Linked DNA regions of Homo sapiens. The protein of the gene in region 7 interacts with the protein of the main gene of each other region in a pairwise test. Each region holds a gene or a part of one and is shown on either strand. Other genes may lie near its edges.

Region 1 (4,379 bases), on a different chromosome or scaffold from region 7:
CTACAAGAGCTCCCTTTGTGTTCTGCCCTCCACTTGCCTGGGTGCTCACAGGGGAGGCTGAGGGTGCAGCATGGGTCCTTCCTGCCCTGTCTCTGCATTCACACTATAAAAGGCACTCACAGAGCCACCACCACAGCCCCAAACTGCAATCATGAAATAACACCTGCACTGGATCAGGGGGCTAGAAGAGATGAAAGACCGATGGACTGTCACTACACCGTGCTGGGATCTCTGCCTGCAGCATGAGGCACCACATGTGTGGGCTGTGGGAGCAGGTGTGACCTGTGGGCTGGGGCATGAGACTCCCCACTGGGGAGACCCCATCCCCTGCTGGACCAGCTTCCTCAGCATCACCATCATGGACAGACTCCACTTTGCTCGTGGCCCTTCTTTTGGGGCCCCATTAAATCGGGGGAGCCTACTTCTCCCACTGGCAAAGTCCTCTTCTCTCCTCTACGTGATCAGAAACAAGAATAGGAGAAGCCAAAAAAGGCCTGCAAGGGGAGTGTCTCAAATCCCTATGTCCGAGGCCCTGTACGGGCAGCTCCGCTGTGCTTGGAAGGATTGGGGTATGTTATGGCAGGCTACAGGATAACCCCCAAAGATGTTCATGTCCTAATCCCCGGGACCTGGGAATATGCAACTTTATGTGGCAAAAGGGACTTTGCATGTGTGGTTAAGGCTCTTGAGATGAGAATTGATCCTGGGTTATTGGGTGGGCCCAGTGTCAACACAAGGGCCCTTGTAGGAGGGAGGCAGGAGAGTCAGAAGCAGAAGGCGATGTGGCTGTGAAGGCAGAGACTGAGAGAGCTTGGAGGCTGCTACGCCGCTGTACTTGAGGAGGGAGGATGCAGGTGGCCTCTAAAAGTGAGAAAAGGCAAGGATCCTCCCCTGGAGGCTCCAGAAGAAACATAGCCTGCTGAGAAAATGCCAACCTCCAGAACCGTAGGAGAGTCAGCGTGTGTGTGTGTGCATGTGAGCGTGTGTGTGCCTGTGTGTGCATGTGTGTTTGTGTGTGTGCATTGCATGTGTATGCCTTTGTGTGCATGTGTGCAAGTGTGTGCATGTGTTTGTGTGCTCATGTGTGCATGTATGCATGCACGCGTTTGTATGTGTATGTGTGTTTGCATGCTTGTGTACCTGCGTGTGTGTGCATGTGCGTGTGCATGTGTGTGCGCATGTGTATGTGCACGTGTTTGTGTGTGTGCATGCTCGTGTGTGCCTGTCTTTGTATGCATATGTGCATGTGTGTATGTGCCTGTGTGTGTGTGTGTGTGTGTGTGTGTGTAAAGTTTGTGTTCTTTCCATGACCCCCAGGTTTGTGGTCATTGGTTACAGCAACCACAGAGACATAGTAACATGAATGTTGACAGCACGGAGCAGCAACCCAGTTTTGACCTGGTCGATGGTTTTCTGGGACCATTTTATTGACTATTACACCTGTTTTAGCCCATGTGGATATGGCTAAAGAGTGATGGACCCAGAAAAAGAAAAAACGATTGGGAATTTAATGATTAGACCATGGAAAATGAAGTGGTTAGATCCTTCGTGTGTGGTGAGTCTTTAATTCCTGGAAGTTAGAGTCCCGGGCAGTTGTGTCCCCAGCTGCAGACACTCGGTGTACATGCTGCAGGGCGGCATCCTCACCCAGCCACCTGCCCTGTGCTCCCCGCAGCTGGGCTGGTGGACGATGGGTCCACAGATGGGAGTTACAAAGGCGAAAGCCGGAGGGAAATATTCCGGGATATAAAAGTGCGTCTCGTGCTTCTACAAATCACATTGGGTGAGACTAAGACGCCTCTGGAAACAGCAGCATCTCCCAGCCTCTGCACATGGTTTCTGCCTCTCCACTCTGAGGTTATGACAACATCACCGTGGCTCTCAGTTGCCTGAGATCCAGTTCCTCCAGTTAAATGCTGCGTTCGCCCCGTGGGTCAGGGTCTTCACCGGTGGGTTCACCAACTCCCATTTTCCTTCCTCTTTATTTTCTTCACAGAAGCACATGCCCAGGGAAGGGATCTGGAACAGAGTTTTAAATCACTTGTTAATATCTTATAGCAAGTCCATCAATTTCAGACTAGCTCCAAAGCCAACTGTCAGGCACACCTCTACTTTGGAGGGTCTGCGACTGCCCAGGCTGGCACTGCCACCATTGAATGGCACCAACATCTGCCCTGGCGGTGCCCCGTGGGGGATGTCCCCTAGCCAGGGGACACTGGGTAATTCCGGAGACATTTCTGATTGTCACAACTGAGGATGGAGGTGCTGCCGACACCTAGCAGGTAGAGGTCCTACAAGGTGGTACATCCTACAATGAGTAGAACAGCCCCCACCACAAAGGTCTGCAGGCTGAGGTGGAGATTGCCATCCACCACTTAAGGAGTGACTCATATTCTCATATTCAGCATCACAAAAAGACACAGACATTGAGTTTTCAGACCCAAAAGAAAAGCACAAAGTGAACCTTTAGACCTCCATCCCTTCATCTGTGAAATGGATGTGTGAGAACAGAGCTTTGTGGTGAAGCCTTTTTTGTTTTTGTCTTTTCTTTTCTTTCTTTCCTTCCTCTTTCTAATGTCTAGAAATTCCTCAGGCAGATGAAATTTACAAAAATGCCAACTGGCAGGGGGGTCTGAGTGAGGCTGGTGTTGACCCTAGGGTGATTCTTTCCTCACGCTTGCAGAGGCTGTGGGCGAGGGGCGGTGATGGGCTGGTCGGGGAGGGTCCTGAGTGCTCCCTTTCCAGCTGCCCTGATTTGGGGGCCCATCATTTGGTAGAGCCCCCCCTTTGTATTTTCTGATATGCATGAGCAAGTCCAGCTTATTTTGGGGTAGGGGCAGGGTGAACGCCACGTGACCAGCATAAGAAAGTCCAGGAGTTTGGAAGTTCAAGATTGGCATCTATGGAAGGGGGTGAAGGGTCCAAGGAGTGGGTGGAGCTTTGGCCACAAAGGCTCATGGGTTTGAGGAACTGTCAGCAGCTGGTGTGTGCAGTGCTGCCACCCTTGGTTACGTGGGCCCCCAGGAGCGCCTGGGGCTGGAGGCTTGGTATGTGTATATGGGACTGTGGGAAGCGGGGCAGGGACAGGAGGAATGCATCAGAGCGCATGTGTGGGAGACCCATTTGCAGAAGCAAGAGCAACATTTTGGGAGCAGGTGGTGCCGGGGCTGCCCCGGACAGTCCCCAGGAAAATCCATGCAGACCTCTACCAGTGTGGCCCAGGGGGGTTGAGCTGCCCTATTTGGACAATGCTCACCTGGTGGCTCAAGAATCCAGGGCGCTCGGAAATGTCTGGATCATAATTGGGACACACCACCCTGGAGACATTTTGCAGGGGAAGCATGTTTCTACTCAGGTGCAGAGGAAAATGGAGCAAGAAAGGGAGATTCGGGTGTCTGATGCCTAATTGCTGAGTGACAATGACCCACGGCAGGCATGCTCTTCATGTGCGTAACCTCTCATCTGGCTGCTGAGGCAGGCGTAGCTAGAGAGCTAAGCCCTCCTGCAGGCACCTGGCTGGTGTCACTGGGCTGGGCCCGGGAGTTGGGCTCCTCTGAAGCCCCTGACCTCTTGGGGGGACTCAGCAACCCCCACTGCTGCCCACAACTTATGGCAAACAAGCTGTGGCCAGTGTGGTCCTGTGGCAGTGCTATGTGAAGAAACCAGGTCAGGGCCTCAAGCACCTCCGATGACAGGCATTGTCTATGCTGCACGTGCTGCCTGGGCACTGACCAGTGGACTGATGAATTTCATAAAAAGGTCAGGACTGTGGTGAGTCCAGCCTTGAGTAGATCTGCAGGGAAGGGCTGGGACTGGGGTGGGATCTGCACTCCTGAGTTTGCCTGCCTCAATTCACCCATGGACTGGACATCACCCTCTGGCTTTGCTGAGTGATAATCAAGGTTGTCCAAGATGTCACGTGTGCGTTATCCTCTGTTTGTCATTCACAAGGCCCTTGCCAGAGCCTGAGCACTCTGGCAGCTACAACCAGCTCAAGCTTCTTCCATGCTGGGTGACTCCAAGGGCAAGAGGATCAAGGGGCTCCTTTTCATCCATCAGCCGCCCTGCCCCAGGTCCCCAGAAGAGGCCAGAATCGAGTCCCACAGTCGTTTCTTCCCTCCTCATCTAAACTGCTTACTCCTTCCTGGACCGTCTGTTTTTCTACGAGAGCTGCAAGGGGTCATGGCATGAGCTGACTGGTAAAAAGTTGGCAAGTGGCCAATGATGATGAGGTTGACTGACCTATCCACCAGCCCCAGCCCGAAGTCACCCTTCGCATAAGAGCCGGTGGGCACAGTCTCCGGGGGCACGTGGATCCTGGTGGCCCTGGGTCAGCCGGACACTTGTTTTCATTCCGAGAAGTGGATGAGATAAACCTG
Region 2 (4,737 bases), on a different chromosome or scaffold from region 7:
GAAGCGGCATGTGGAGCCCATGAATTAAAGTATCTGGTTTCCCTGGCTTTTTCCAGCTTACCTGTTGGTTGACATTGGATCCTCTGAGAACACTTGGCCAACCCAACATCTCTGAAATGTAGCTGACTCTGGCGTGGGGGCTGCAGCTGCTTTCCCAGCCTTGGATAGACAGAAAGAGGAAAAACTGGAACCCACCTGGAGCTGAAGGGCTCTTATAGGTGGGCAGGGCAAGGAAGTCTCTAATCTACCTGCTGTGACTGTGCACCCACATAACACGCCCTTCTATCTGTGTTATTATACACTGTAAAAATTGCTCTTATGTGTATTAGATACCCCACAGCAGTCTTGTGAGGTAAAGCACACAACATATGCTTTGTTTTAAGATGAGACTGGAGGCTTAGAGGAGTTCAGGACGTGTCTAGAGTCACACAGTTGGTATGCAGGGACTGCATTGCCATAAGAGCCTCAGGCTAAACTGCAAGTCTCCTGAACTTTCCAGGCTACACGAGGTCCTGGTTCCAAAAAAAAAAAAAACAAAAAAAAAAATACCTTGATATGCTTTTTTTCTTTTTTTTTTTTTTTTTGAGACAGAGTTTCGTTCTTGTTGCCCAAGCTGGAGTGCAATGGCGTGATCTCAGCTCACTGCAACCTCTGCCTCCTAGGTGTCAAGTGATTCTCCTGCCTTAGCCTCCCAAGTAGCTAGGACTACAGGTATGTGCCATCATGCCCAGCTAATTTTGTATTTTTAGTAGGGACAGAGTTTTATCATGTTGGTCAGGCTGGTCTCGAACTCCTGACCTCAAGTGATCATCCCGCCTTGGCCTCCCAAAGTGCTGGGATTACAGGTGGGAGCCACCCTGCCCGGCCAGCCGATGTGCTTTTTTTAAAAAAACTTTTTTGAGTTATAACTCATGTACAATCAGCTAACCCTATTTAAAGATTGATACATTTTGACAACTGTACCTGTGTGATTACCTGCTACAAGACACAGTACGTTCACTGCCCCTAAAAGTTTCGTTTGTACCCCTTTGTGGTTAGTCCTCTCTCAACCCCCAACCCTGAGCAGCCACCAGTCGCTTTTTCTTTTCTTTTCTTTTTTTTTTTTTTGAGACAGTTTCACTCTTGTTGCCCAGGCAGGAGTGCAATGCTGCGATCTCAGCTCACTGCATGCAACCTCCGCCTCCCAGGTTCAAGTGATTCTCCTGCCTCAGCCTCCCAAGTAGCTGGGATTACAGGCATGCACCATCACGCCTGGCTAATTTTGTATTTTTAGTTGAGACAGGGTTTCTCCATGTTGGTCAGGCTGGTCTCGAACTCCTGACCTCAGGTGATCCGCCCGCCTCGGCCTCCCAAAGTGCTGGGATTACAGGCATGAGACACCACGCCCAGCCCAGTTGCTTTCTTTCACTGTACATTAGTTTGCATTTCCTAGATTTGCATGTAGGTCATACAGTGCATACCCTTGTACTTGGCTTCTTTCCTTCAGCATATTTTTTAGACTCATCCTGCATGTATCAATAGTTTATCTCTTTTAATTGCTGAGTAGACCTTCAGGTATTTGGATGTGCTAGTAGGGTAATTATAACCCCTTGCACACAGCTTCTATGAAAATTCCCTCTTACGCGCTAATGTCTTTTTTTTTTTTTTTTTTTTTTGAGATGGAGTCTCGCTCTGTTTCCCAGGCTGGAGTGCAGTGGCACAATCCCGGCTCACTGCAACCTCCGCCTCCCGTGTTCAAGCAATTCTCCTGCCTCAGCCTCCTGAGTTACTGGGACTACAGGCACATGCCGCCATGCCCAGCTAATTTTTTGTATTTTAATAGAGACATGATTTCACCATGTTGCCCAGGCTAGTCTCGAATTCCTGAGCTCAGGCAATCCGCCTGCTTTGGTCTCCCAAAGTGCTGGGATTACAGGCATAAGCCACCGCGCCTGGCCTTACGCCAGAATTTCTAATAATACCTTAAGTTTTTAGACCATGTTCGAGCTTACAAAGCAGAGTCACATACATAATCACTATTAAGTCTCAGACATTGATAATTTAATGAGGAAACTGAGGTTTGGAAGATTAAGTACTACAGAGATTGAAGAGTATCCTGCCTCACTGTTCTATCCTGTGGCTTTGATCACCACCTGCTCCCCACCCTCAGCTGCCTCAAAGTCCAGCTCCCTTTCAGGGAGTGGACAGTCATTCGCAGAGCTAAAGGCGTTGCTTTTCAGAGAGGCAGCCAACCTAGGGAATCCTGTGTCTCCCGCCAGCTTTGCTCCAGCTGATGATGATGTGGTGGTACTATCACTGCCTCCCCAATCCCAGCCGGCATAAGCCTGTGTAAGGGTATCTCCTTTCTTGGCCATCCAGAAGCTGAAGAGACCCCATCATTATCTGCCCCATCCATCCTGCCCTGATAGACAGAAGTCTGAACTTGTGGCAGCCTGGCTTTGAATTCCAGCTCTGCCTCTTACCAGCTGAGGGACTGACCTTGGGCAAGTTGCTGAACATGCTAAGCCTCAATTTTCCTGTCTGTACAATGCAGACAATAACAGCACTTGTCTTGAAGGACCTTTGTGAGAGAAGGGTGCCAAACCACGCAAACAGCTGGAGAGCGCCTGGCATTGGGCACACCCTCAGAAATGAGGTCGGTATTAGTGCTACTCAAGTGGTGATGTTACTCCACATGGCTCCCTCTGTGGTTTGGTTCCTTGGTCGCCTTCCACTTTTATGGTTCTCTGTTCCTCACTGAGCTTTGGGTATAAGGCTGTAAGATAGGGCAGAGGCCAGTGGATGCTTTCTCCCTGATAACTGCATTCTGCTCTCTGTGCTTCTCTCTCTAGAGTGCCCAGAGGGGTGCGGGGCCTGAGAAAAAGCAGACCCAGGGCAGAGAGAGCACCACCCAAGCTGCTGACTATAATAAATGGCAGGGGCTGGGGACTGGAAGGGGTACCATATGGTTGTCTTCTGATTACTTTCAAATGGAATCAGACTCAAGCCTAAGAGAGAGAGTGGGGAGAAAAAACCACACTCAAGAATGGATCCTCTCTGCAGGGTGACAGACTCAGCCAAGCAGAATGCAGAGCCATTGCCAGAAGAATGAGATGACTATGATCCTCATTGAACTGAACACTTTTGTCATTTTCATGGATGGATTCTCCCAGGGGCCACTTTCTATTTGCCCAAAGGCTTATGGAGAATCTGTGGTTTTTCTCTTTTCCCTGGAGGATGGGTGGGTAGATGTGGCAGTGATCGCAGTCCTCTGGACCCTCTGCCCGGGGCCCTCGGTATGTGATAGGTGATCCCTTTTCTTGTTTCATCTTGCTCACATCCCTGTTTTCCTGGTGACTTTGCAGTCATGCTCTTTGCCACTTACTATCTATGACGGTGAGGCCCATGGTGAAGTGTCCTAGATGAACATCCAGAAACTGTCTGAGCTCTTACTGTGCATGCAGCACCCTGCTAAATTCTGTGCAGTTCTCCGGAGGAAAAGGTAAATGTCAGGTTTTTCCCATCTGGCACTCTGAAGTCAACTGCTCTTTTGAGCTGGCTGCACGTTCTCCACAGTGACCCTCGGAGGGCAGGCCTGCCTTTTTTTTGAGACGGAGTCTCGCTCTGTCGCCCAGGCTGGAGTGCGGTGGCGCAATCTCAGCTCACTGCAAGCTCCGCCCCCCGGGTTCACTTCATTCTCCTGCCTCAGCCTCCCAAGTAGCTGGGACTACAGGCGCCCGCCAATACCAGCTAATTTTTTTGTATTTTTAGTAGAGACGGGGTTTCACCGTGTTAGCCAGGATGGTCTCCATCTCCTGACCTAGGCCTGCCTTTTTGAGGCCTGCTGGGATTACAGGTGTGAGCCACTGCGCCCGGCTCGTGTGTGTTTCACTCTGTCTCCCAGGCTACAGTGCAATAACACGATCCTAGCTCATTGCAGCCTCGAACACTTGGGCTCCAGTAATCCTCCTGCCTCAGCCTTCTGAACAGTGAGAACTACAGGTGTGCCCCACCACACCTGGATAATTTTAAAATTTATTTTATTTTTATTTTTGTAGAGATGGGGGTCTCACTACATTGCCCAGGCTTGTCTCAAACTCCTGGGCTCAAGTGATCCGTTCGCCTCAGCCTCCCACAAGTGCTGGGATTACAGGCATGAGCCCCTGCGCCCAGCCTGGACCAGTGTTTTTGGACAGCACGAGGATGCTCTCACTGCTTCATGGGTGTGCTTCTCTGTTCCAGAGCATTTGGCTTTTCTGTTCCTGTTTTTGTTTTGTTTTTCACAGTGCTTTATGGTCAAATTCTTCTCCTCTCCCTTTAAAGAAAACTCTTCAGGACTTGATATTTTAGAGAGTAAATAAACGGAAAGGAAGAAAGATATGAGGCAATTACAGTGGTGGGGAGCCGTTTACTAGTATGCAATAGTATAATTCTCAAATTGGTACAAAACAAAAACAAACAATTTGTTTTCTTGCAAAATACAACCAAAGTGCTGGTTAAATAAGAGGAAGGTAGTGCCTTGAGCCCAGCACCTGAGGCAAATAGATTGCTCAGGGGCACCTTTTAAATTAAAGGGACATCTTCCCTTCTGTGGAGTCACCAGCTGTTTGGGTGACACTTCCCGTTGTGCTCCCGGCCTCTGTGGAAGCATAAACATTCTTGTACATAAAGCAACTGTGGCAGTGAACTCCACCAGGACCAAGGCTGTTCTCGTGCAGAGTGGGAAGCTGAAAGAACCACCGCTGTAGCCTCTCATGG
Region 3 (4,667 bases), on a different chromosome or scaffold from region 7:
AGTGAACATTGATAGGAGAATAGGAAAAGCTGGTGAGACTCTTCACACTTGGGGCAAGGAAGAGATAATCTGATGTAAAAACAAAGAACATAGGGTCAACTGACAGCTAGCAGCATAAGTATAGGCAGGAGTAATTTTTATTAAAAGAAGGCTACCTTAGACAACTAGGGCAGGTGACCAAATAGAATGGTAAAACTGAAAGGCAGTTTTTCTGAGATAAAAACAGAGAAACTATTAATCAGTGGATCACGATTTGCCTCTAACCCATTTGTTCTCACTTTTGGGAGGTAAATGAACCACTTCTGTGGACAGAAGAGTGCCTTCTGTAAAGAAGTAAAAGGGGAAAAACATGTCTTTACCAAAAGAAAAGAATGATACAACTTGTGATAAGAAACCAACAGGGTGACCTCTCTCTGGGGGTAGAAGGAGATGTGTAGATTATTGATGCTTGGAGACTTCAGCGTGGCTGGAGATCAGTCCAGGGTCTGTGTGGAAGGCCTGGTGAATCACACAAAGGGCATTTCTACCCTCATCATTTCATAAAGTCCAAAGTGAAAGATAAGGAGAAGTTTTAAGGTTTAAAGAACCAAAAGTACCTGGAGCAAGGCCCCTCCCTCCCGTTTCCTCATGACTATTGTGCTTAGAAGAAAATCGCATTAATACATAAGCTTTCAGGAATGGAGGAGGAAATAAAGGATATTAAAGTCTGTCCTCGGCATTCATTTTTTTCCTTCTATGAGAAAACAATGATTAAATCTTGAGAGAGGGAGAGGCGTATCTGATCAGGACATCTGTTTTATAAAACTGCAAAGGTGCTTTTCAGCAAGTATTTGAGGCAATGGATCAAGCTGGCAAAGCCATAGAGATGGGATCAAAGAGTGTGCTCTCTACTGTTCTTTTCTAAAAGTACCCACTTATCGCGAGCACAAATTGCAAAGAGATGAGGTGTAAGAATTACCTAAAGGAATGAATAATGGAAGAGGTAGTCAAAATTAGAAATTTTTAAGTCTGCACGTTTGTTGAACACCAGATACTCTGAGCCCGGTGTGGGGATGTGGAGCTAAATAGGGTTCTTGCACTTAGTTGTATTCAAACACAGAATCTAAAGCCTAAACAAAAATAATGATGATAGAGGCCCCGAGAGAGGTTGGTTTTCCGCCAACCTATTAATTGTCCTTAGATTCCACTTGGAAAATGACTTCTGAAAAGAAGGGTCAAATGAATGGGTTGTACTAATTGTTCATTCTCCAGAACCATTGATTCAAAAACTATGAGAATGGAAAAATCATTCCTTATAAGGAGTACTCATAGAAGGACATAACAGGAAGAAGTGGTCTGATGTTTGAAAATTTGAAGAATTTGCCCAGTAGTCAGCACAGAGAAATTACTATATACCAAGTAAGTACAGTGTTTGGAGATGGAAAGTGTAGGAAATGCGGACAGTGGGAGGTAGCACAAAGGTGGCAATTAAAGAGGAGAAATCAAAGGGGAGATGTTTCAAAACCCGGGGACTGAGTCTAGTTAGGTTTTAGTCCAATCATAGAAAATTGTAATGAGTGTCCTGTCCATCTATGATGGCTTAAAAAGATGTCCATAAATTCTTTGGTACTCTTTGCTTCAGAAGGTGGAGCCTGACCCTCTTCCCTTCAGCATGGGCTGCACTGAGCAACTCACTTCTAATGACCAAGATGTGGCAGAAGCGATGGAGGGCAGCTTCCGAGATGGGCATTGTGGCTGCCTCTTTGCTCTCTCTTGGGTCACTTGATCTAGGGTGAGCCAGCTGTCATGTTGAGAGTACATTCAGGCAGCCCTACAGAGCCCCCTAGGGGTTCATGTGAGCAGACTGCCTTGGAAGTAGAGCCTGCATCCCCAGTCTAGCCTTCAGATGACTGCAGCCTCAGCCAGCATCCTGACTGCATGTTTCAAAAATGTGTTAAGATTCTTTGACAAGCTTAAATGTAGAGTACTCTACCATACTATCAGTACTCTAGTACTTGTTGAGGAGCAAGTGTGGCATGGTCCTTTTTCATCCAATTTCTTGAAATCTGTTCTAGAAAGCCAACCGTGGAAGGACTGCAACAGATGAGAATAGGACTGATGGAGTTGCTTTCATGGGAATCATTCCCTGGCTCCCTCTGGAGGCAGAGTTGTTTTGGGTCGGGAGTAACTCCATCTCCATCAGATGCAGGGACTGGTGGCTCACTTTGAAAGGAGGAGACCATACAGCAGTGTCCCAGCTGTCCCTTCAGGGGAAATTCCCTATGAGAGATGTCTGGAGCAGAGCCAGAGTCCTCAGGACAGAATTGGAAAAGTATCCACAGACTGGAGCTCCCTCCATCATGGGCTGCTTTGCCCATAAATGGCATTCCCATCTTTTTCTGGTGACCAAACATTTGTTGGTGGCTCCAGCACTGCCGATGTTTGTTCCAGATTTTCTTTCTTCCAGTTCTCAAACTGCATCAGAGTCCCCTGAAGGGCTTATTAAAACACACGGTGCTGGAGGTTAAAACACAGATGGCTGGGCTCCACCCCAGAATTTCTGCTACAGCAGGGTTGAGGCAGAGCCTGAGAATTTGCATTTCTTTTTTTTTTTTTTTTTTTTTAATTATTTTGAGATAGGGTCTCACTCTGTCATCTAGGCTGGAGTGCAGTGGCCCTGTCATACCTCACTGTTGCCTTGACCTCCCGGGCTCAAGTGATCCTCCCACCCTGGCCTCCCAAGTAGCTGGGACCACAGGTATGCATCACCACACCTGGCTAATTATTTTAAATTTTATGTAGAGATAGGGTCCCACTATGTTGCCCAGGCTGATCTCAAAGTCCTGGCCTCAAGTAATCCTGCCACCATGGCATCCCAAAGGGCAGGGATTACAGGTGTGAGCTTCCATGGCTGGCCCTTGAGAATATGCTTCCTAACCAGTTCTCAGAGGATGCTCATGCTGCTGGTCTTGAGAGCACACTTGGAGAACATCTTAACTAGTTCATCTTCACACTTCACTTAGAGGTGTTCAGTGGTCATATGTAACGGTGTATGTTAGTATACAGATTGTTCTTTTTCAGATTTCCTACAGAAAATCTACTTAGTTTAAATTAAAGAACACTCCCCAACTTTTAGCACTCCTGCTTGGCATAAATTGGTTCTACATCCTTAACTTTTAAAGGTTTCTGCTCAGGAGCCCACGAAATTAAAAATTACCTCTTCTGCTGCGAAAATTTTATTGCTGCAACTCATGCATGCATACAGGCACACACACACCATGATGTTAAATTAAGGAGCTTGAATTAAAAGCAAATTTCCCTTATGTAGAAAGTCATCTGTTGATCATTTGGCTTAATTAAAATTGGGTGTATCTTACATCTACCATGATTCACTCCCATACTGCCTCCACTAAAAATGATGCCACATTATCTCTAAATTGAGCCTGGCTTATAGTAAACTCTATAAGTGAGACTGCCCTTCATCTTTTCCTAAAGATACAACTTCTAGTACAGAATATTAATCATCTATAGGCTGAGGCCTAATCTGAGATTAACCTTCTGGTTTCTTCCTGGAGTTTCATCCAGGAGTATGCCCTGGGCCTCACATGGGGATGAGATGGGGCTTTTCGCCTCAAAGGTTTGTTCTTATTTGGTCTATTTGAGACAGAGGCATGCATAAATACAAACTATACTTACAATTGTTCCTTTCATTCTTTTCTGTTAACAGCTATGGCTGCTGGGTGAGCCCAGCTGCCTTGCACAATTTGAGTCTTCTCAGACACTCATTCCCCTGAGTTGTCATTGGTAGAAATGGAGTGATTCCTTGTTTTGCAAGGGTTGCACACTTCTCATCAAACATTTATTTGGGCTTTTGTGAACTCTGTAATAGACAATGGCCTAGTCCTTTGTTAACTGTCTGGAGGTCCTGCTGGGAGGTCGCAGAGCAGGGCTGAGCTGCTGGACCCTCAGAGCAGGAAGTTTCTGGGCTTTGAGAAAAGCAGAAAACTGGTCTGGGAATTCCAGGAAGAATTTCGGATGTTAGGCTGTGGTCCTGCCACTGGCCAGGCATGTCCGAGGTACCAGCCCTGCCTCGGAGAGCACATGCTCAGCTCCACATTGTCCAGAGGGCTCTCCTGCCCCCACACGCACTTATACATTCACACAGATGAACTCACACGCTACGCATACTCTCACACACTCTCAATACTCACATACTCCCTCTCACATCTGCGCACGCTCACACACTTAGAGCTGCGGTATCTCATGCTCCTCTTTCATGCAACTCTTTTTTTTGTTTGTTTTCTTTTTTTTTTTCATAGAACTTACTGCCCTGTGCAGCCATCTGTACACCTCTATTTATCTGTTCCCCACACCAGATTGTCACAGAGCATATGTCCTGCATGCACACACATGTATCCAGGGCACCGCCTGCCTGGCATGTGTTAGTAACTAATTGTTATTCATTTAATGAATTGATCAAAACTTGATATTTTTGTACAAAGAACATTTATCGTTCAGTATCTTCTTTCCTGCATGCTTTTCAGCAAATGAGATAAAAGACCAATTTTTTTTTTTTTTTTTTTTTTTTTTTTTTTTTTTTGAGATTTTTCGCTCTTGTTGCCCAGACCAGAGTGCAGTGGCGTGATCTCAGCTTACAACTTCCACCTCCCAGGTTCAAGCGATTCTCC
Region 4 (4,737 bases), on a different chromosome or scaffold from region 7:
GAAGCTGAGGTGAGAAGATCACTTGAGCCCAGGAGGTGAAGGCTGCAGTGAGCCATGACTGTTCCACTGTATTATAGCCTAGGCAACAGAGCAAGACCTTGTCTTAAAAAAAAAAAAAAAAAAGAACCAGGAACACAGAAAAATTTTTCCAGACTAATACTCAGTGAAATCAAGTGTGGATACTTAGACACTTAAGACAAAAGTTAGCAGTTAATATTCCAAGGACATCTTTCCTCAAATAACCATTATTACCTGAAGACTTCTTGGAACCAAGTCAAAATGGGTACAGGTAAAAAAGAGTAAAAATTTTTTCTATTAGAAGAAATATCATCACTGAGTAAATTAAGTAAATCCCCTCTGCCTTATACATAATCAATAGAGAAAAGGGAAAAAAAGTTTCCTCACTTAAAGTAGATCTAGTCCTGTCATGGTATAAGAATAATTATGAAAACCAAAGTGACCCTTTATGAACTCCACAAGTTATTTCACATATTTTCTAGATCTCTAAATCAGGATAGAACCCATGTACTCTGAAAATACAAAGCAAAACAAGTCTTAACTCTTACAAATATTTCAATTAAAACTATAACTAATATTTTCACTAGGGTGGTACAGTGTTTCCTCATTCTATTTTTAATCTTACCCTTATCTGTTCAGTGGAGCTGCTGCTAAGTTCATCACCAGATTCAGAATCTTGATGTATTCTTTCAGAGCCTTCTCCTGCGGAATCACAAGATTGTTCCTGGGAGAAGCTAGTTTTCTCTACATCCAAGAACTCTGGACCGGGAAAATGACCAAATGAGCGTGTCCTATTCTGGCTGGAAACTTTAGGAGAATGTGAGTCATTGTTAAACTTTCCGTTATTATGGGTCAGGTCCAGGCTTAGGTTGACAGTCTGACCTTGATTATAACTGGGTCCAAAATTCTGATTGGCATCACGAATAAGACCTGTTCCTTGAACAGATGACGATGGCTTTCCGAAACTTGAAAGCTCAGGCAATTTGTTCACATTTTCTGTTGATCTCTGAAGATGCAAACTCTGCATTATTTTCGTGGAGTTATTTGGCAGACCAGCTACCTGCTTAACAGGTGGCATGAGAGCTTTGCGCGTGACCTCCTTCACATACTGGGCTGGCACATAAAACGCTTTGGAGTTTTCATCTGGCTTGACTTGCCACCAGTCATCATTGGTCTTTTTCACCAAGATGTACCTCTCCCCTTGTTTTATCACAATCTTTCTGTCCTTTGCTTCATATTCATAATCATATTCCACCTCAATATACACTTGTCCTGGAATAATCTTCCCACTTCTGTCAGCCATTTTCATTCAATAATATTCACCTCTCAAAAAGGATGTTATACCACATTATGGCTTTATGGCTTGTTGGATGAATATAGCTGTTTTATTTAAATGGAGAAAGAGAATGAAGAAAAAAGTTAATGCAATCTGGATTTCGTATTTACTCACAAGCATCATATAGTATAGGCCATTTAAAGAACATTACTTCAAATCTCAAACCCCAAAAAGCAAACATGTGTCTACTATCATATGCACTGCCACATTAAAAACACTTTCATTCTAATTGTAATCTACATTTTTCAGTCACTTATGACCAAAACAAAAGCCGATAACTGGAACAGTAAATATACACTAACCAGGTAGACACAAGAGTTGAGAAGAACTTTCCTTCCTTTCATTACTCCCTCAAACCTCCTTCACCTTCTTAGAAAGGCTCACTAATAACTAATATGCATTTACTTTCATTTCTATAACAATTCCAAAATATTTTAGTACCTCCTAGAACACGGCATTACGGGTTTAAATGATCACCTCCTAGAACACGGCATTACGGGTTTAAATGATCACTGCATCCTCACATCACTACAGCATGAGCCAGTTCCCACCTGTTTGGGGATGAATTGTGTTCCCCCAAAAGACAGTTCAAGTCCTAACCCCAGGATCTGTGAATGTGACTTTATTTGTAAAGAGGGTCTTTGCAGATGTAATCAAGTTAAGACAAGGTCATATTTGATTAGGGTGGGCCCCAAAATCCAATGACTGGTGCCTTTATAAGTAGAGGGAGATTAAGGGCACAGTGGCTTACACCTATATTCCCAACACTTTGGGAGGCTGAGGCAGGTGGATTGCTTGAGCCCAGGAATTTGAGAGCAGCCTGACCAACATGGCAAAACCCTGCCTCTACAAGAATTACAAAAATTAGCTGGGTGTGGTGGCATGCACCTGTAGTCCCAGCTACTTGGGAAGCTGAGGTGGAAGGATCTCTTGAGCCCAGGAGGCTGAAGTTGTGGTGGACCAAGATCACACCACTGCACTCCAACCTGGGTGACAGAGTGAGACTTTGTCTCAAAATAAAAAGAAAAAAAGGAGGAGATTTACAGAGAGGAAAGCTACAGAGGGAGAAGACCATCTGAAGAGAGAGGCAGAAACTGGAGTGGAGTGAAGCAGCTAAAAGCCAAGGAACACCAAGGACTGCTGGCAACCACCAGAAGTCAGGCAGGGGTGAGGAAGGAAGGGTTCTCCCCTGGAGCCTTCCGAGGGAGCACGGCCCTGCCAAAACTGATTTTGGACTTCTAGCCTCCAGACCAGTGAGAGAATAAAAATAACTGTCTGCTGTTTAAGCACTCCAGTTTGTAGTATTTGTCACAGCAGCCCTAGGAAACTAATACATTCAACCCAATGCTCAAGGATCCTAAGGCAAACTGAGATTTACCAAAAATGTGCAAACCCAAGGTTCCATAACAACCTACTAATTTTCTATAGCAAACAAGTACTGAGCATATTATTCTACACTACAGGTGTAGTAACCATCATTCTCCTGAGGATAACAATCTTCTCTATGACAGATAACGCCTATAAGGCCAGGTGGTAAGTCAATTAGTCACTGATACAATTTTGTTAACTGAAATTTACTTTCTAGACAAACTACTTGACTAACAAATTTAATACAACACATTTTCAAAAAATAAAAAATTACCTTAGAACAAGGAGATCTACACCAGTATCACATTTAAACCTGTAAAAAAATAAATAAGTTCATTAACTCAAACCAAGATCGCTGAAGACTAAGAATATAATGTTGCTTACATTTTTAAAAGCAAAACTTTTTTTATAATAGCTATAAGGAATCAGGAAAGTTTTATACATCAAGATTGTGGTCAGCACCGCCCTCCAAATACATGCAAACACAACCACCAACAGCCACTGAGGCTGGCTTTACCACTGCCCTCTCCCACTGTACTTCCACACTGTCTCAAACTTCATTTTGTCCCTTATTTTTAATTCTGACAAGCATCTTTCTAAACTTCTGATTATACAACAAACATCTCTTCTATTATAAAACTGTGAGGATGAAATAACTGTTTTTCAAGTTTATGTATTGAATGGGTAAAGAGAATAAAAACGTATGTTAAAAGTTATTAGGTGTCCTAACACATTTGTCCCCTGATTACTTCCTAATTATTTTATTTATTTTTTTATCTTATTTATTTATTTTTTGAGACAGAGTCTCTGTTGCCCAGGCTGGAGTACAGTGGCACGATCTTGGCTCACTGCAGGCTCTGCCTCCCAGGTTGAAGCAATTCTCCTGCCTCAGCCTTCCAAGTAGCTGGGATTACAGGCATGAGCCACCATGCCCAGCTAATTTTTGCATTTTTATTAGAGATGGGGTTTTGCCATGTTGGCCAGGCTGGTCTCGAACTCCTGACCTCAGGTGATCCGCCTGCCTCAGCCTCCCAAAGTGAGGGGATTATAGGCATGAGCCACCGCACCTGGCTATTTACTTTCGAGACACAGTCTCACTCTGTCACGGAGGCTGGAGTGCAGCTGTACAATTTGGGTCACTGCAACCTCCACCTCCTGGGCTCAAGCAATTTTCCCACTTCAGCCTCCCGAGTAGCGGGAACTGCAGTTGCACACCACCACACTCTGCTAATTTTTGTATTTTTTTAGAGATGAGGTTCCACCATGTTGCCCAGGTTGGTCTTAAACTCCTGGGCTCATGTGATCCACCCACCTCTGCCTCTCAAAGTGCTGGGGCTGCAGGCGCGACCACACCCAGCCTACTTACTAATCTTAAATAGGATAAAATACCTTAACAATGGAAAGATGTGGTGGCATAAGCTTAACCAAATGATCAAACTTAAGAGCACTAATGCGACCTGACAAGATATGCCTCCTATGTGATGCAATAAAACATACACAATGTCACCTACGTTATATTCTTGTCAAAAGCATGTTTCACCTTAAGCAATTATTAGAAAACAATCAAACAAATCCAGAATGTGAGACATTCTATTAGACAACAGACCTGAACTCTTCAAAAAAGTACTGTCAAGGGAGGGGGATTCTTCTAGACTAAAAAAGACTATTAATACATAATAACCAAATCTACTTGGTGGTCCAATAAATACCTCAAACTTATCATAACCAAAATGTATTCCCATCTCTACCCTACCCGAGCTCTGCCAAATATGCTCACCCCATGGTCTCTTCCATCACAGTAAACAGGAATTCTGACCTTTCAGACGCTCAGTCGTTACTTTCATGCATTACCAGAACGCTAGTCACTATGTGCTTTGATCATTTACCTATACAAATTTTTCACAACTTTTCAAAATTTTACCCTGAAATGCTTATCCTTAGGTGATTTTTTTTCCAGGAAAGTAATAAAATAACTTAAGAAATATCTTTGAAGATACAGAGATGAGCGAGGGAAT
Region 5 (3,737 bases), on a different chromosome or scaffold from region 7:
CAGGGCGATTACACTCCCTCCCAGAGCTGTCCCCAGGGGGTCCAGGCATGAGGGACAGCCCTGACCTCACCCTTGGGGCTCTCCCAGAGGGGCTGGCCCTGAGACGGGCTTCACGGCACAGGACCCAGGTCCTTCCCATGCTGTGTTCCCAGAGCTGAATCAGGGACCCACTGGCTTTGGATAGATGCGGCCACAGCGGGCCCCCAGGGGCTCCAGAGCCTGGAGGGCCATCACCAGGCCAAGCTAGCCCACAGCCGGGCCTCGATGCCCCAGCCGCCCATCCAGCCTTGTAACCATCTTGGTCTTTCTAGATCATGAATGTCCGGGCCAGAGTGCAGATGCTGGCCAAGTTGTAAGTAGCCGGGTCCGCCCTGGGCCAGGCCCGTGGGTGTGCGTTGCACGGTGAGGTGAACCTCTCGCATGGCAAAAACCTGGATCGCTCAGGATGCTGGCGGCAGGGGGCCTGGAGCCTTCCTCCTGCCCCCGCTCTCCCCTCGTGCCTGCAGCCGGGGGCTTCCCAGTGGCCGCTGCCCTGTTGGCAAGCGAGGAAGGGCCCCCACCTTCCCAGGAGCTCCGCCTCAAGCCAGCAGCGGCCACAGAGTGCCCCTGGGCACAGGCACGAGGGCGGGAGCGGCTGGCCCAGGAGCAGCAGGGCCGTTCGGAGCTCTGAGCTCAGCGGCTGAAGGGAGCTGGAGCTGAGAAGGAGGGGTCCGCAGGCCTCACCTGCAACCCCTCCCCAGCCCCATCCGTGCTCCGTACCCCCCGCCCCACATCCTGCCGCAGGCTGAAGGTAAGTGGCCAGCTACGGGCTGCTGTGTGTGGCAGTCCAGGCCAGTACAGGCTGGCGAGAGTAAGTCCAGGCATGAGCCCAGGGGCCACGGGACGGTGTCCCCCTGCACAAGGAGCCAGGAGACAGTAAGGGAGCCGAGGAGCCCTCATGGGGGCCCAGCAGCCCTGGGTCGCGCAGCCCAGCCCACCCTGCGGTGGAGACAGGCCTTCACCCAGTACACGCAGGCCTGGCCCTCGGGTCGTCGCAGTGAGTCACTCATGTTGTTCACAGATCACCACGCTCAGGAGCCGCATTGACCAGGCCCAGAAGCAGTGAGTAGCCCTGCCGTCCTCGCTCCGCACTGGGCACAGGGGCCCTTGGGGCCAGCCGCTGTAGCCAGTCCCTAACAAGGGCCGGTGGTGGCTGGCCTCGGCAGGGCAGTAACGAGACTAACCCGGCCAGGCCACCCAGGCCAGCATGCGCAGGCCTGTGGCCAGGGACCCGGAGCCTCCTCCCTCTCCTGCACGCAGGGGAGCCCTGGGGGGTGGCAGAGTCAGGAGGAGGGATCCCAATGGGGCTTGCCTGTCACGCCCTCGCCCCGAGTCTGGCACTGGCTGCAGGGAGAGGGCAGCCAGGGGACCCCTAGAAGGGGCTACTCGGGGGGCCTTTGGTGTGGCCAACCTGGGCCCCAGGGTATCCCGCCAGTGTCCCACCCTCCAAGGGGACCTAGGACAGGGAATTAAGCAGTCAGGGCTTCATCACCAGCCCCTCTGTGACGCTGGGCAAAATCATGGACTCCTCAGGATGGTGAAACCTCATCCATAAAATCGTGTCCCTGGGGGCTGTGGGATCCCTTGACACAGCTACTCGACCACCTGCATGGGGCTGCACCCAGGGTGCCCCCGGCGATGCCACGCTGGGGATCCTGTCATGGAGCCCAGCTGCACAGCCAGTGCCATTTCCCCAAGGATCGCAGTGTTTGGGGGCTACTTGGAGTTTCGATGTTTTCTGGGATTCTTCTCCCTCCTCCTGTCGCCTTGGCTTCCCTGCGGCGCCCAGGGCGGGCTCCTCCGTGGTGCACGTGACCTCACGGCCTCCCTGTTGTGCCGTCAGGGGTCATTGCAGACCCCTCTGAGGGTGGGCAGTCGGCGTGGTGTGCATGTGCCTGCGTGTGTGCATGTGTGCATGTGCCGAGAGTGCCCAGGAACGTGTGTGAGGGCACGGCCTTTGCCAGCCAGGTGTCCTGCTGAGCAGCCGCGTCTGAATGGGGCCGGCCTCGCGGGCCGAAGCACTCCTGTCCTCCACCCGCCTTCACCCCTCACCCGCACCCAGCTCCTCCCGGCTCGTGGCCACATGAAGACCTCAGACAAATGGGGCAGGCTCCTGGGCCCCTCAGAGGCCACCGTCTGGAGGGGCATGAGCTCTTTCAAGGCCAAGCGTCTAGGATTATATCATTATCTGCTAAGACAGTCTTCCCCAGCTCAGGGGTCTGTCTGCAGTGGTACCTCAGGCAAAGAAAGGAGGACAGAGGGAGGGTGCCCCGGGCTCACGTGCCAGCCCCCTAACCACACTAACGACCTAGGCCCGCCAGGCACAGGTGAGTGGGCACTGCCCGGACTGAAGCTGGGTGTGGGCCGCAAGCTTGGGCCGGGCCTGTGCCCTGAGAGCAGCCTGGGGTCGGGCTGAGAGTCCGCCCAGGGTGGGGGACCAGGAGGGGCATGGCCAGAGGCCCTGACCCTGAAGGATCACTTGCTTCCCATTTGCAGCAGCAAGAAGGCTGGGACCCCAGCCAAGGGCAAAGTCGGCGGGCGCTGGAAGTAGAGAGGCCAGAAAGGCCCCTCGAGGCAGAGACCCTCCGCCCTCTTGCACACCAGGGCCGCTCGTGGGACTCCACATCCTCCAGCCCCCACAATCCTGTCAGGGGCTCCCTGACAGTCCTGGGGGTGGAGAGGCCATCCCGGGGCGTCCCCCGCGTCTGTGTCCTTGCTGCCTTCATCCCCTGGGGCCTGTGAATAAAGCTGCAGAACCCCCTTCACAGTCTGTACTTGCTTCTGCATGGGGGCCCCGGAGGACACGAGAGGAGGCAGGTAGGGGCTAGCCAATGGCACAGCGTCCTGGTCATCCGCGGGGCCAGCTCAGGAGGGCACTGGCCAGTACGCGCAGGGCCAGCTCAGGAGGGCACTGGCCAGCACGTGCCACCTGCTGCTACGGCCAGGGCGGTGCCTGGATGCCCATCAGACGCTGCCCACAGCTTTTCCCTCTAAAACGTGGGCTCCATCCCCGCGCAAGCCTATAGGGCCCCTCCACTCTCCACTCCCATAGGGTCTTTGTGCAGAAGGGGGTGATCTGCAGGCCTCACCCCCAGCCCCAGACCCTGGCCATCTGCGCCAGCTGTCAATCCACTGGGGGCAGAGAAACTTTGCCTCGGGAGGGGGTGAGGGAGGAGGGCAGGGCTGCGAAAGAGACTTTGCCACCCCCCAGAAAGGCAGAGGCAGGCGGGAGCGGCTCCTGCGTGAGGGGTGCACCCCAGGCCCTGGTCGGGGAAAAACAGTGCAGGAGAGTGCACTCCCAGCAGACAGCAGGCAGGGAAGACACAGACAGCCTTCTCCGGAACGCAGGACAGCAGAGCGCACGCGGGTCGTAAATCTGAAAATCCTGACCAGAGAAAATTATGGAAAGTATAAATCATAGAAATTGGATCAAGACGCAGAGACTTGTACAGCAAAATATTCACAGAGGAAGGTTTGGAGTCCAGAACGGCCCCCAGAAAGACTCAGGGGCGGGCGGGCGGCCACATCCGGGAGTTCTGCTGCCGGGGATGGGGGCCAAGGAGCGGGGGATGGGGGGGAGCAGCACGGCCCCCTCAGTCTGCGATGGGGTTGGGGACAAGGCCAGGACCCAGAGGACAAAACAGAACCTCCAGATAGCATCACACACATGTGCAGACCCTGCAACACACACACACATA
Region 6 (4,245 bases), on a different chromosome or scaffold from region 7:
ATTTTTTGTATTTTTTTAGTAGAGACGGAGGTTTCACTGTGTTAGCCAGGATGGTCTCGATTCTCCTGACCTTATGATCCGCCCGCCTTGGCCTCCCAAAGTGTTGGGATTACAGGCGTGAGCTACCGCGTCTGGCCGTTTTTTTTTTTTGAGACGAAGTTTCACTCGTTGCCCAGGCTGGAGTGTAATGGCGCGATCTCAGCCTACCGCAACCTTCGGCTCACCGTAACCTCTGCCTCCCAGGTTTAAGCGATTCTCCTGCCTCAGCCTCCCGAGTAGCTGGGATTACAGGCATGCGCCACCACGCCCAGCTGAGTTTTTTTTTTTTTTTTTTTTTTTTTTGAGATGGAGTTTCGCTCTTGTTGCCCAAGCTGGAGTGCAATGGTGCGATCTCGGCTCACTGCAACCTCTGCCTCTCAGGTTCAAGCGATTCTTCTGTGTCAGCCTCCCGAATAGCTGGGATTACGGGCGCGTGCCACCATGCCCGGCTAATTTTTGTATTTTTAGTAGAGACATTGTTTCATCATATTGGTCAGGCTGGTCTCAAACTCCTGACCTCAGGTGAGCCGCCTGCCTGGGCCTCCCAAATTGCTGGGATTACAGGCGTGAGCCATCGCACCCGGCCCGGCTGGTTTTTGTATTTTTAGTAGAGACCAGGTTTCTCCGTGTTAGTCAGGCTAGTCTCAAACTCCCGACCTCAGGTGATCTGCCCGCCTGGGCCTCCCAAAGTGCTGGGATTACAGGCGTGATCCACTGCGCCTGGCCATATTAGTATATTTTATTTCATACATATACACAGAGAGAAAAAAAAGAAAAAGAGAAAAGAAAGCACTGATATATGCTCTAACATGGATGAATTAGAAAACATTAAGTCAAAGAAGCTAGACATAAAAGGCCACATGTTGTATAAAAAATTCAATTTACATGAATTATCCAGAATAAGCAAATCCATAGAGACAGAAAGTAGATTAATACTGGGAGGAGGGGTGGGAGGGACAGGGGGCTTGGGGAGGAATGTGGGGTGGGGTGGCTGCTAAAGAGTGCAGGTTCACTACACCGGGGTGATGAAAATGCTCTGGATTTACTGGGGATGGTTGTAAAACTTCATGTATATACTAAAAAAAGTGAATTGTACACTTTAAAAGGGCATTATGGAATGTGAATTTTATCTCAAAACAAATTGTAAGTGAATGTCAAAGACTGGCAATAAAGTTTTTCTGACATGGAATGTTAGAAATTTCTTTATTATTACTTATTCTTATTAAGCGCCAGCTTTAATGCTGCAGAAAATTTCAAATCACCCTTGATAACCCACTTTCTTTTCTCCCACCCAAATTCTTGATCAAGAGTTTTTCAAGTAAAGACATGCTCTTCTCTCTTCTGTATAAAACTTTACGAAATAAAGGCAAAAGATTGTGTACATCTTGCTGGAAAATGCTGCCCAGGGCTCTGGAGACGGTGGCTGCCCGGGCTCCCTTCACTGTCCAGGTCCTGAAAGACTCTTGTTCATGAACTGTCTCTTCACAAAGCAAGTCCACCACTAACAAGAGAGAACAACACAGAATGAACAGCGGGGTCAAATTACAATAGAATTTGCATTTATTTAATAATAAAATTTCACATTAGTCTGGAATCTCTTATAAACTTTTTTTTTTTTTTTTTGAGACGGAGTCTCGCTCTGTCGCCCAGGCTGGAGTGCTGGAGTGCAGTGGTGTGATCTTGGCTCACTGCAAGCTCCGCCTCCTGGGTTCATGCCATTCTCCTGCCTTAGCCTCCCCAGTAGCTGGGACTACAGGCGCCTGCCACCACGCCTGGCTAATTTTTTGTATTTTTTAGTAGAGACGGGGTTTCACCATGTTAGCCAGGATGGTCTCAATCTCCTGACCTCATGATCCGCCTGCTTTGGCCTCCCAAAGTGCTGGGATTAGAGGCGTGAGCCACCGCGCCTGGCCATAAACCCTTTTTAGACAAAGTCTCACTCTGTCATTCAGGCTGGAGTGTAATGGCATGATCTTGGCTCACTGCAACCTCCACTTCCTGGGTTCAAGCGACTCTCTTGTCTCAGCCTCCTGAGTAGCTGAGATGACAGGTGCACACCATCATGCCTGGCTAATTTTTTGTATTTTCAGTAGAGATGGGGGTTTCACCATGTTGGCCAGGCTGGTCTCGAACTCCTGACCGCAAGTGATCCACTCGCCTCGGCCTCCCAAAGTGGTGGGATTACAGGCGTGAGCCACTGCGCCCGGCCTGCAATTCATTATTTAGTGTGATTCAGTGAACTCATATTACATACTAGACATATACTGGAAGTTAAGCAACATTGCAATGCAGAAATTAAAAATATTCTTGCAATGGAAGACCTTAGTGTGTTCAATGGTGGCTATGGGATAAAAGGTGATTTACCAATTAAGCAGGCAAGAAGAGGGTCTTACCTTGCTGGGTTTATCATTCTGAGGGTCGAAAACTTTCTCACAAAGTCTCAGTCCAGTCTCTTGCCTTAGCTGTTGTAAATAGGCTCTCATCACTTCTAAAACAGAACAATTTAAAAAAAACTGTATTTGCAAATACATCCCAAATGTACTGGTTGCAGCTCTGGATGCTCACTGTGGTAATACATTTTTATACATTTGAACAGGATACAAAATAGAAATGACAGTCCAGATAGTTTTATAACTATATTTGTTTTTGTTCAAAAGATTTTCTGCATGTCATCCTTGTTGCCAAGAATCGTTTGTGAGAGTGACTAATAAGATAATGTACTTCCTATGATTTCACTCTCAATCTGTACATGAATCAAGGCAAGAAAAAGAGGGGTGGTAGGAAGTCAAATGGAGAAAATCTTCTTGTGTCACAGAGTGAGGATAGAGACCTGTTCTTACCATCTTCCTGTTTGTTTGCAGGTTTGGCATAAATTGCGTTAAGTGGAAAACCAGGCTCTCCAGGAATGGGAAAATTAGTGATTCCCAGCGTATACATTTCTTTCTCACCTTGGCTTTTGGAATTGCACTGGAAAAAAAAATATATATATATATATACACACACACACACACACACACACACACACACACACACACACATATTTTACAGGGAAAAGAAGAATTCTATCCTTGGACCCCAGGTTAAGAACCCTTGAGTCAAGGGCTTAAAAGGAATTCCTCTGTCAAGATTTCTGTCTTGAGAAAATATATTCAAAGCCTTAAAACACCACTACTTTTATCTTTGTGTCAGTCAATTATACTACAAGTTCAGGTAACTAAATTCAAATTTTTCTCTTAAGTCCATGCTGTAAGTCAGAGGAAATATTTTCTACTTGTCTTTAAAGTCTCAACAAATCCCAGATGACTGGGAGGGTAAATGCCTCTCAGCAATTTGTTTTCCTGATATACAATCATCCAAGTTTAATTACCTTTTGCAGTTTCTTCAGACATTCAGAAATGTAGAGAGTTATATATATCAAGGTCCTATCAGCTTCATTCTACAGGGAGAAAAAGAAGACTTAAAAACAGTTATCAAAACATAACAATGATGTGCAATGTATGCATTCCATCTTTGTCTTCTGATTATCTGCTGAATGCAGTGGTAGGACAGCCACTATCACATCAAAACTCCCATTCTCCAAATGCACAGTCTCCTCAGTCTCCTTTTCCGTCTGCCCCTGGGAGGAAGGCACAAGCCCCACTCTGAGATGTGCAGCTGCTTTTTTTTTTTGAGACGGAGTCTTGCTCTGTTGCCCAGGCTGGAGTGCAGTGGCACAATCTCAGCTCACTGCAACCTCCACCTCCCAGGTTCAAGCAATTCTCCTGCCTCAGCCTCCCGAGTAGCTGGGATTACAGGTGCCCGCCACCACGCCTGGCTAATTTTTCTATTTTTAGTAGAGACGGGGTTTCACCATGTTGGCCAGGTTGGTCTCGAACTCCTGACCTCAAGTGATCTGTCCACCTCAGCCTCCCAAAGTGCTGGGATTACAGGCATGAGCCACCACGCTCGGCTGAGTGGCTGCTCTCTCTTGTTTTTCTCGGCTCCCCTTGCCCCAGGGTTCCCAAGGATCTGTGTCAACAGCCCCTCACTGTATAGGAAGAAGTAACAAAGCTGCCTGGAAAGCCTGAACTGCTCCATATGGTTGGCTAATTTTTAAAAACCCTTCCCTTCAGGGTCTCTGCCGAGAACAGAAATAGTCATTACTCTAAAGGAGGAAGCAACTATTTCACATTTGACTTGCTCCCAAAGAACTCCATAATCTCAATG
Region 7 (4,737 bases):
CCTCAACACCAAAACAGCACTACACACCAGCCATTCAATAAATATTTGTTGAAGGAATATTTAGTTATCAGATTTTATAAGCATACTTCTATATTATACTGACTTTCCATATTTAACCTCTTCATATATCTATATATAAAATATGTATAAATATATACACCTATAAATATATAAATACATATACCTATATATAAATATATAAATATATATAAATATGTATATAAATATATATATAGGACCCATGAAGGCCAAGTATATAAAGTGGGACAGTGGCTGAGTAATTGTACTTGATAATGATAAAAAGCCAGTAAGACTAGGTGACATACGTGTGGGTTACATGTACAGAACACAGAACAATCTTTTTCTTCTATTTTTCTCATGTAAAATTGATTGTGTGAAGGTAGTATTTGAAGAAGTACTGGAGCTCTAGTATTAGAACTTGAAAATTAACAGAAGCCCAAGAGAAGCAACATTATCTTCTCTTAGCCCTAAACTAAGTTGTTACTTTTAAAACGATAATTATTTATTATTTATTTATTTATTTATTTAAGTCTCATGGTCAGCTCTAAATTGTTACAGAATTTATTTGGAAAGGAGTTCAATTGAGTCATGTTAATTTCTGTTTACTCTTCTAGCAAGGGAAATAATTTGCTACCAGATTTTGCTAGACATGCTTCACAAAATTTACCTGGATGAAAAGCATCAAAGACACCTGACTATGCTGGCATTACAGACTGACAAAAGACAGAAACTTATCAGTATCTATGGTGAAGAGGAAGAAGTAGCTAATAATTTCATCATCAGGTACTACCACAGAAATACTAACAGTTAAAATAAATGGGTCTGAAAATAAGTAAAAACCATCCTATATTTTCATTATATTAGCGTGACTATTACATACTATTAAAAAAAAACTTATTGTAGGGAAATATTTAGCAGAACTCACAGATACCAGCATAGAATAAATGCTTTTTCAGAATCATGTAGTTCACAGAAGCCTTACATTTCTTTATGAATGAATGAAGACCTTTCTTTATCTCTTCCTAGCAAACAACCTCTAAACAAAGCTTGAGATTTTTAGATCTCATTCCTATGACATTACTATGACATAAAAAATTCAGGCAGTTTACCTCATCTGTGAGGATTAGGGCTAAGAATTTAGGTAATTTTCACTGTTTTTATGCTAAAGAAGACTATACCATAAACATAACCATAACTTTAAATACCAGGTGTCTATGTATATCCTACTGACATGCAATTTAACAATTCAGACCTCTCCTGTGACTTCCAGACTCATAACGAAATGCCTACTCCACATCTATAGTTGAATTAATAGGTATCTCAAATTTAATATGTAAAATCAAACTCCTAATCTTCCCTCTCAAACTTTTTCTTCGTAAGTCTTTCCCCTTTCCAGTTGTTCAAGTCAAAAACCTTGGAGTCATTTTGCACTCTTCTTTTTCTTCAACCTTCACTTTCAAACCATCATCAAAACCAGTGATCTCCACATTCAAAATATAATTAATATTTAACCACTTCTCATTGGTGCTATAAACCTGGTTCAAGCCTCCATCACCTCTTGCTTGGATCATTACTACACCTCTGCTAAAAACCCTCCAATGGCTTCCCATCATATGCAGAATAAAAGCTAGTGCACTTTCAGGGGTCTCCAAAGCCTTACCACTGGCCTCCTACTACTTCTTGTATTTCATTCCTTACTATTCTTTCCCTCCCTCCCTTGCAAGCTCCGTGATCTCCTCATTGTTTCTCAACCTCACAGACTTTATATTTTCTGTTCTTTCCATCGGATACACTTTCCCTAGTTTTCTACATGGTTCACTTCCTGAACTGCTGGTCTTTTCTCAAATGTCACCTCAGTTAGGCTTTATTGTCCCTTATCATCCTTTATCATTTCAAAATGAACCTCTCTCTCAACAGTCTGCCCCCTATTTCCCTTTTCTGTTAGACTTTTGTCCTTACTTCATGTCACCATTTAACATACTGTATGTTTTTCTAGTTTTCTTTGTTTATTGCTTGTCTCTCTCTCTCATTAGACCTAATGCATGTCGATGAAGGCAGGGACTTTTTTTTTGTTAAAATTTTATTATTATTCCACAATAAATATTTATCTCTATCTCTGTAATGGAGGGTAGGTACAAATATGCCTATTTAAGGAAAACAAACATTGCTCAAGGATCTTAAGACATGGACATCCTTACAGAGAAACAAAAGGAAGGTAACATTTATTAAGCACCTACTATGTGCTAGGCAATCTGCAGGTTAGTGACATACTATTTAATTCTCACATCTATATGTTTTGTGAGTTCTCTGAATGTAACAAACAAGAAACTGAGGCTCACAGAGATTAAATAAATCTAAGAAGAAAGATCTGATTCTAGCACATCATGTTGGAGAAGCTATTTAGCAAACCTCAACTACTCCAATCAGCAAAACTCATATTCTTGTTCTTTCTTTAAAGGAATATTTATATGGTGGTATGTATATGTTTAATAATAACCTCAGAATAGGTACTGGTTTCTTCAAATCAACCTTTTAGAAAATGAAAAAGAAAGGTTTAAAAAAAGTTAGTATTCTTTAGCAAACTCTAGAAACAGTAAAAATTACTGAAATTCTTATCCCTAATCCTTACAGATGAGGTAAATGGCCCGATTTATTATTATTATTATTTATTCATTTTATTTTTGAGACGAAGTTTTGCTCTTGTTGCCCATGTCGGAGTGCAATGGTGCGATCTTGGCTCACCACAACCTCTGCCTCCTGGGTTCAAGCAATTCTCCTGCCTCAGCCTCCCGAGTAGCTGGAATTACAGGCATGCGCCACCACGCCGGCTAACTTTTTTGTATTTTTAGTAGAGATGGAGTTTCTCCATGTAGGCCAGGCTGGTCTCGAACTCCCGACCTCAGGTGATCCACCCGCCTCGGCCTCCCAAAGTGCTGGGATTACAGGTGTGAGTCACCGCACCCAGCCCTGAATTTTTCATGTCACAGTAATGTCACAGGAATGAGATCTAAAAATCTCAAGCTTTGTTTAGAGGTTGTTTGCTAGGAAGTCTATTAGCATTTCCTGATATAGGAAACAAAACTGTCAATATTCCCAAAGCTGTTCTTTCAATTTATGGCTATGGCTGTGGTGGTGTTGCATTTGTTAAGTCTCAGAGAGACTAGTCACACAGGCAACAACTTTTTAAAATACATCCTAGAGCCCACATCAGTAGTTACTCAATTAGCAGAGAGAAAGCTAGCAAAGACAGTCATAAAAATAACAGAACGTCAAACATTCAAATTTATTAAACACACACGCACACTCTCTCTGTCTCTCTCTCTCTCTCTCTCTCTCTCTCTCTCTACCTGAAGAATGAATGGCTTTGCTCCTTTTCTGCATCACTTCCATTAATGCACCCACAATTCCTGAAGTGGGTGCAGGTGTTGGTGGTGTAGACTCTTGGCCATCAGCCACCTTGGAAAAGAAAGTTAGCAAAACTCAGTAATAAATCTTTAGCCAAGAATCTTTGTCTCCAGAAAGTCCTACTTTCTTAGAATCACTTCTTATTGTAAAAGACAAAAAAGATATCAAACTGGCAAGCGCAGGACAAGATTAATCAAATTAACAAGAAATAAACTGCTGCCTTAAAGATATTATTCAAAAATATTTCCTTTCCATCTTAATGTATAAGCCAAAAATACATTTCCAAATCTATGTTTACATTCAGATAACAAACCCTCTCCTGAATAATACTTGCTGGGTTACTTCTGTTTATTCCAGCACACACAGACTTAGATGATCAACTTTAAAGCTTTTATCAAGGGATTTCATGTTATAAACAGAGGTTAATACTTAGACTCCAGAGTTGTTACGTGGGACGCACACTGAAGATATTGAAAAACAACTGTAGAAACTTATATTTGCCTACAAAAATTCAGCTTTACACCTTTATGTTACATTTATACCTTCAAAATGAACCTCTTTTCTCATAGTATATAATTTCTTTTTAAGGAGATGAGTTGATCAACTTTCAAAATGTACCTGCCTCACTAGGCAAGTAACAATCCCTAACTGAAGTACTTCCAGCTGTGCCAAAGTGCATTCATGAAAAAAAAAATTATAATTAAAGATGAAACAGCATAGCTGTATTAAATAATTACCTATGTTTTAATACATACATATATAATATATATTTTTGAAATTCTTAATCATTTCCCAAAGACAATTTTATTTAGACAAACTTTCCATTTTGATCTGTACAATTCTTCCTCTAATACTCCTTGTTCTTTCTGGAGTAAACACCTTTTTTAAAAAAATTCAAAGTGGTTCCCCCTAAGATATAGATTCATTCCTTAGTATTTTGGCTTTAAACATTATGTATTAACTATTTCCAGTATAGAAGTACCACAAATGAAAAAAGATAACAGAGAGTTTCAGAGCTTTGTATTTCTGCACAAGGCTCTCAAGGAGGTACAACAGCGGTAGGGACATTTAGACTACCTTTAAGCAATGTGATAATGTAAAGCAGAGAGCACAAAGCAGAAGTGAGCATACTCTCATCAAACACATTTTTTGAAGTGCTTACTTGAACAAAGTACTATTTGAGGTACTAAAACCATGGAATTCAAAAATATATGTGAGTATTCAATACCTCCTACTAGCTCTTTAAAGTAAGTCTATGGTTTTATGTTAATCATATTCATCACAGAATAAATTGATGATTTACTCAAAAAA

What was found.
Region 1: the proteins of WASL (region 7) and UBASH3A interact in binary tests that used the Homo sapiens proteins (3 or more experiments, as listed by UniProt).
Region 2: the proteins of WASL (region 7) and UBASH3B interact in binary tests that used the Homo sapiens proteins (3 or more experiments, as listed by UniProt).
Region 3: the proteins of WASL (region 7) and NCK2 interact in binary tests that used the Homo sapiens proteins (3 or more experiments, as listed by UniProt).
Region 4: the proteins of WASL (region 7) and ARHGAP12 interact in binary tests that used the Homo sapiens proteins (3 or more experiments, as listed by UniProt).
Region 5: the proteins of WASL (region 7) and TNNT3 interact in a two-hybrid assay, tested with the Homo sapiens proteins (one large-scale study listed by BioGRID and IntAct).
Region 6: the proteins of WASL (region 7) and ARPC3 interact in binary tests that used the Homo sapiens proteins (3 or more experiments, as listed by UniProt).

The regions. Positions count from the first base shown.
Region 1 is NC_000021.9:42,444,697-42,449,075, reverse strand, and holds the end of UBASH3A (ubiquitin-associated and SH3 domain-containing protein A), read right to left. Parts: coding exon of another isoform or gene 4,243-4,379; intron 2,020-4,242; coding exon 1,882-2,019; 3' UTR 1,392-1,881; downstream 1-1,391. UniProt on the Homo sapiens protein: Interferes with CBL-mediated down-regulation and degradation of receptor-type tyrosine kinases. Promotes accumulation of activated target receptors, such as T-cell receptors, EGFR and PDGFRB, on the cell surface.
Region 2 is NC_000011.10:122,661,340-122,666,076, forward strand, and holds part of UBASH3B (ubiquitin-associated and SH3 domain-containing protein B), read left to right. Parts: intron 1-4,737. UniProt on the Homo sapiens protein: Interferes with CBL-mediated down-regulation and degradation of receptor-type tyrosine kinases. Promotes accumulation of activated target receptors, such as T-cell receptors and EGFR, on the cell surface.
Region 3 is NC_000002.12:105,886,990-105,891,656, forward strand, and holds part of NCK2 (cytoplasmic protein NCK2), read left to right. Parts: intron 1-4,667. UniProt on the Homo sapiens protein: Adapter protein which associates with tyrosine-phosphorylated growth factor receptors or their cellular substrates. Maintains low levels of EIF2S1 phosphorylation by promoting its dephosphorylation by PP1.
Region 4 is NC_000010.11:31,907,529-31,912,265, forward strand, and holds part of ARHGAP12 (rho GTPase-activating protein 12), read right to left. Parts: intron 3,036-4,737; 5' UTR 2,997-3,035; intron 1,399-2,996; 5' UTR 1,328-1,398; coding exon 644-1,327; intron 1-643. UniProt on the Homo sapiens protein: GTPase activator for the Rho-type GTPases by converting them to an inactive GDP-bound state.
Region 5 is NC_000011.10:1,935,903-1,939,639, forward strand, and holds the end of TNNT3 (troponin T, fast skeletal muscle), read left to right. Parts: intron 1-311; coding exon of another isoform or gene 312-352; intron 353-1,060; coding exon 1,061-1,101; intron 1,102-2,535; coding exon 2,536-2,590; 3' UTR 2,591-2,800; downstream 2,801-3,737. UniProt on the Homo sapiens protein: Troponin T is the tropomyosin-binding subunit of troponin, the thin filament regulatory complex which confers calcium-sensitivity to striated muscle actomyosin ATPase activity.
Region 6 is NC_000012.12:110,433,678-110,437,922, forward strand, and holds the end of ARPC3 (actin-related protein 2/3 complex subunit 3), read right to left. Parts: intron 3,476-4,245; coding exon 3,407-3,475; intron 3,007-3,406; coding exon 2,880-3,006; intron 2,528-2,879; coding exon 2,433-2,527; intron 1,541-2,432; coding exon 1,478-1,540; 3' UTR 1,146-1,477; downstream 1-1,145. UniProt on the Homo sapiens protein: Component of the Arp2/3 complex, a multiprotein complex that mediates actin polymerization upon stimulation by nucleation-promoting factor (NPF).
Region 7 is NC_000007.14:123,685,674-123,690,410, forward strand, and holds part of WASL (actin nucleation-promoting factor WASL), read right to left. Parts: intron 3,478-4,737; coding exon 3,369-3,477; intron 1-3,368. UniProt on the Homo sapiens protein: Regulates actin polymerization by stimulating the actin-nucleating activity of the Arp2/3 complex. Involved in various processes, such as mitosis and cytokinesis, via its role in the regulation of actin polymerization.